Linked DNA regions of Homo sapiens: region 1 is linked to region 2. The links come from fine-mapping of genetic effects on gene expression. Tissue or cell type: whole blood. Region 2 holds a variant in brackets; the other region holds the start of a gene. All regions are shown on one strand. Distances are between the middles of the regions.

Region 1 (2,618 bases), 35 kb after region 2:
GGAAAACGCGTCGGGTAGGAAAGGAGACTGGGTTCGCGCCCCAGCTCTGCCCACCGGATTCCTGAGTGACAGACGCCCGCCGTCCCTCGGCCACCCGTGTCAAATGCGACAGCCAAACTCAGTGCTCAGAGCGCCTTCCCGCCATATCCCCGGGTCACTCCATCTTCCTCTGTCCAAGACAAAGGCCCCGGAGAGCGCAGATGCCCTCGGGGCAGGTGCTGTGGCTTCCCCGAGCTGGCACCGAGGTCACTTGGGCGCGTGGTACCTGCACCCCGGAGCCCCTGCCCCGTGGGGCACCAAAGGGAGAGGGAGCCCCAGCCAGTGGCCTGCAACCCGGAGCGGGCCAGGCGCGGGGGAGAACGCCTGTTCTGGCCCCCAGTGAAGCTTCCCCCTGCCCAGGCTCTCGTCTCGCTCAGCACCTGGGTCGTCTGCCCCAGGGCCGCAGCCCCCTGCGCAGCACGAGACACCCCGCAGTAGCCCCGGGAACCCTCAGCTTCGCCCCCATCCCCCACCTCCATTCCAGCCCCTCGTGACCCAAGGAAGTTCACGGCCCCCTCCTTCCGGCTTGGTCCAGGCTTGGAGGACTCCAGCTCCCAGGCTCAGGCGGCCCTCCCACCTCTCCCGGAGAATGGGGTGACAGGGGAAGACCAGGAGAGGGGGCGACAGGAAGGGCGATGCCGGGTGAAGCATGGGCGAGGGTCGGAAGCCAGGACATTAGGGGGCAGGGGGACTTGGTGGGGCGCTGGGGAGCTCTCTGGGTCTCGGAAGTCCCTTTTGCGAGCTGAGCGACCACTCTCAAAGCTCTCCGGCTCTCTCTGCCTCAGTCTCCCCATCTGGAAGTGAGGTCGTTGAACTCAGTGATCCCCGCGGTCTCTGCCCGACGGAGCGGGGTGGGTGGGGTCGGCTGGGGGTCGGCGCGGGGGCCCGCTCACCTGCCAGGGCGGCGCCGCAGGTGGTGATGAGCACCGCCGCCAGCACCCCTGGCGAGGGCGCGCCGTTCTTGAGCACCAGGACGCCGATGAGCATGGTGACCAGGGGCAGGCAGCGCTTGAAGACCACGTACATGGGCAGGCTGAGGCCGCGCAGGGACCAGAGCGTGAGGCTGGACTGCAGCGTGGAGAGCACCGCGACCCCCGCGAAGGAGCGCGCCAGGCTCAGACCGAAGGGGGGCACGGCGATGAGCCCGAGGCGCCGCAGCAGCTCCAGGCTCAGCGCCGCGGTGGAGCTGGTCAGGCACTGCACCAGGGTCAGGAAGGAGAACTGGTAGCGGCTGATGAGGAACTTGAGCAAGATGTTGAGGGAGCCCGAGAAGACCCCGTGCGCGATGGCCACCGAGATGCCCAGCACGCGGCCCCGGCACAGCTGCCGCATCGCGCCGGCCTCGCCGCACCCAGCGGTGGCGGAGCTCCGCGACCTGCGCGCGAGGAGCCGGGAGCAGCGGAGTGAGGGCGGCGGGGGCGCCCGCCCAGCGCGGCGGCGAAGGGCAGGGGGCGCCGGCTCGGCTGCAGAGGGCAGCTCCGGCCAGGCGTTCTTGCGGTTAGGCAGCTCTGCGTCCGACTGCCCCGCAGCTCCGGGGAGGCAGTGACGAGGGCGGGGGACTCCGAAAAGTGGCAGAGGTGGCGGGGGGGCCGGTCTGAGAGGAGTGGCGGGAATCCTAGCGACAGCTATTTGTAAGTGGGTGATGAGCCGCGGTGGGTTGTGTCCCGCGCGGTTTCACCGTCAGGGAAGACGCTCTGCGGAGGGAAGCGGGCGGCTGGGCGCCCCGGGGCGGCTGCCGCAGGGCGGGACGGGGGCTCTTGGGGCGCGGCGCCCCTCTCCCCCCACAGAGCCAGCGGCTCTCGCTTGCCCCTTCCTCCTGGCCGAGGGGCTTGGGTTGGAGGGATCGGGACACAGCTAAAGATTTTAGAAACAGCGCATCAGGATCGAGCGCCGTTTATTGGTCGCAACAAGTGACGGCGCCCCCAGCCCCCTCGCCCCGGCGCTGCAGCGGCTTTTTCCACCCACTGTCCCTCCCGGTGCAGCGGCGGGACCTCGTCCAGCTGCCCGCCAGGGAAGCGAAAACCGTCGGTGCCGGCGGGCCCCCGAAGCTCCCGATCCCGGCGACGACGCCCGGGCATCGGAGGAGGAACCCGCGGCCCGGGGCGCTGTCCAGGGGGTGCCTCGGAGCCCGGAAGCTGGCTCCTTCCGGTGCCAGGCCACGCGCACCGCTCTCCGCACGCCTTCCAGAGAGGGTCCCGGGATTATGCGCGCGGCTCCGGGGAAGCTTTCAGGGGGTTCAGTGGTCTCGCCCAGCAGCGGGGCCTGGTGGCGGGGACACATTCGAACTGAGGCAAAGATGAAAATAAGCAAACGCGCAGAAACGAAGTCACTAACACGAGTAGCCACCACCAGGAACCGAGGAGCTCGGGGGCGACGCTTCCCGAAGCGTGGGAGGGGAGGCTGGCTGCGCTCGCAGAATGGGAGAGTAGAGGGGGAGGGGGCGGGAACCCGGGGCCCCTCACCCTGCAGGGAGACTCCGCGTGGCGTTCTCCGGATCCCAGGGAACTGATCCCAGGGAACCCTCACCCTGCGGGACCGTCGTGGGTTGCTTTCGGAAGCAGGACAACCGGCAGGCGGAG
Region 2 (2,757 bases):
GAGTCTTCTATGCACAGGATAGGGGCAGAGTGGGCCATAGGTAGTTTAGGGAAAGGCAGCATTCACATGGGAAAACAGGGATAGAAGTTCTCACTTTGGACCACGGGTTTCAGGCTTTTTGGCTTGAGGGTGAGATTTCGTCAGGGACCACACTTTTCTGCCTAGAATTTCTCTGCCCCCGTCCCTATCATGCATATAAATGGCATTCTCGATGCCAAGATTATACCTATGTTCACTTATATTAGGATTGTCGTGCAACCACCAGAAGCATGACTGACATCAATAGAGGGAAATAAGGCATTGTAACCTAACCAGATAGAAATATGACTAAATTGAAGTATTTCCACTTTTTAAATAATAACTTTATTTAATTTTTAATAACTGAAAAGATGGGAAAGAAGCAAAATATCAGACTCATCAAGAAATGATTCCACAGATCCTTATCTGGCAGCTCAGAATAATTGAGTGACTTGGCCAAGGTCATGGTATTAATGGATGAAAGGGATTTGAACCATGACCACCTGGCATCAGAGTCTAAACTCTACATCATTTAACTTCTCTGAAAAACTAAGTCCCTTATTCTATCCCCACACCCTGTAGTTCATCCTTACTCTATTCATGGCTTTTAAGAGCTGAAGCCCAAGCGCTAGAGCCCAGAGCTAAAAGAGCACTGTAACAAGCCCTCTGGGGCTCCAGGTGTCACAGGCACCCCCACCTGGATGCTGCTTAATCGCCTAGATGCTTACTCTGGCCGGAGAAACTTTGACTTCACCTGTGGATGTCAAGCTCCTGCAGGTTCTTAGGAGCGTTCTGGTTGTTGGCAAGATTGCCTTCCTTTGGGCTTTTTGAGTTGCCGGCTTTGGTGGTGAACCAGTGCATTGGCTCCTGACTGCTACTTACTTTTCAGGGCTTAGTGAAAAATGACAATGTGGGGTCCCTTTTGCAAAAACCAAGAGAAAGGATTTTTCTTTCTCCCCCTCACGGTTTCTCTCTTGCCCCTTCCTGGTGCTTGTAATTTGCTATGTAATGCCACACGCCCACCGGCACAATACTGCAAGGTGAGTGCAGATCCTCAGAAGCAAGGGGTTGGCGTGGGGGGCAGGGGGTGAGCATGCGCATGAGACCACCAGGGCCTGCACTGGGGCAGGGGGTGGTTGCAGTGGGGGAACCTGGAACTGGGTGGGTGGATGGTGGGGGAACCCGGGACTGGGTGGTCGGGGGGAGCCTGGGACTGGGTGGGGGGTGGGAGGGGAGCCTGGGGCTGCATGGGTAGGTGGTAGGGGAGTCTGAGAGTGGGTGGGTAGGTGGTGGGGGAGTCTGGGACTGGGTGGGTGGGTGGGAAGGGAGCCTGGGGCTGGGTGGGCGGTGGTGGGGGAGCCTGGGACTGGGTGGGTGGATGGTGGGGGAGAGCCTGGGACTGGGTGGGTGGGTGGGGGGGTGGAAGGGGAGCCTGCAGCCAGGGCCAGGAAAGGCAGGGGGGTGGAAGGGGAGCCTGCAGCCAGGGCCAGGAAAGGCAGGGAGGTGGCGGGAGGCTCCAAGGTCCCAGCTTCTGCTCCATCATCCCATTAGGACTTCACTTAAAAGACACCATGTATTCAAAGATAAATCAGAATTCCAAGACGGTGGCTGCAGACATTGGGAGTG[C/T]GGGGCCCCCTTCTGGGCTCAGAGGCTGTGTGCCAGCACTAGTCGCAGGCCTATGCAGCCGGCCCTGCCCCAGCTCCTCTTTCTCCATTGCAGTGCCTCCTCCTTGAGCTCCAGTCGGCCTGCATTGGGCCGTAATTAACTTTTTTCTTCCTCCCCTCCTAACCACCCCAGCCCACAGCCCACAGCCCACTACCCACAACCACTGAGCTGGCTGAGATAAGCACAAACAGCCACAAGGAAAGCCAAGAGGCCCTTCTGTGTGAGGCCGACTAGAGTCCCAGAGTGCATTCCACTTAATTACCGGGAGAAATTCTCTAGAACTGCTTTGGATACTATTCCTAGAACCAATTAGCCCGAACCTTTCATTTACATGCAACTCGAAGATGCAAAAACAAATAACTATGGTACTGTATTTTAACAGCTTAAACAGCTCTGTTTGTTTAGCTAAAACAGATGAATAGCTTTCCAAAAATACACAGAAGAGCACTTCCGGCCTGATGAATGCATAACAATGACAGCTGCGAAGTCACAAAGGAAGTACCATTTAGGTGGCATTTGCTAACAAGTTGTATTTTAGGAGAGAAAGGAAAAAGTTAACATAATTAAAGTCAAAGCCAAAGTAGAAACCTTTTCCCATCTACTCGATTTTATAAATTAACAACTTGATTAGCAGTTTGAAATATGATCTGGTTGCCATCAGCCAGGAGCAGGGTAGAGCATTTCATAAGGGAAGGCTCCATCTCAGAGGACTTTTTTGACTTTACATTTAAATAGAAATTATATACATGACATTATTCTATAATTGTGTGACTATAACATTTGCTTTTGCTTTCATAAAGATATATGTTAACAATGGGATACAGGCCGGGCATAGTGGCTCACACTTGTAATCCCAGCACTTTGGGAGGCCAAGGCGGGTGGATCACATGAGGCCAGGAGTTCAAGACCAGCCTGGACAACATGGCAAAACCCCATCTCTACTAAAAATACAAAAAAAAAAAAAAAAAAATTAGTCGGGCATGGTGGCGCATGCCTGTAGTCCCAGCTACTAGAGAGGCTGAGGTGGAGGTTGCAGTGAGCTGAAATTACATCACTGCACTCCTGAGATCACGT

Evidence for each region. PIP is the estimated chance that this variant, and not a neighbour inherited with it, causes the effect.
Region 1: it holds the start of SLC35D3, and the variant in region 2 is fine-mapped to the expression of SLC35D3 in whole blood (INTERVAL, PIP above 0.99).

What each region holds. Positions count from the first base shown.
Region 1 is chr6:136,921,182-136,923,799 of GRCh38, reverse strand. It overlaps SLC35D3 (solute carrier family 35 member D3), which reads right to left and starts at 1,499. Exons shown (of 2, transcript NM_001008783.3): 1 at 933-1,499. The coding sequence starts at 1,371. RefSeq lists an enhancer at 1,971-2,477.
Region 2 is chr6:136,956,378-136,959,134 of GRCh38, reverse strand. No RefSeq gene overlaps it. Among named protein-coding and RNA genes, the nearest start is that of SLC35D3, 35 kb to the right of the region's middle. RefSeq lists enhancers at 306-872, 2,009-2,577 and a silencer at 1,550-1,844. The variant C/T (reference allele first, on the strand shown) is at 1,645.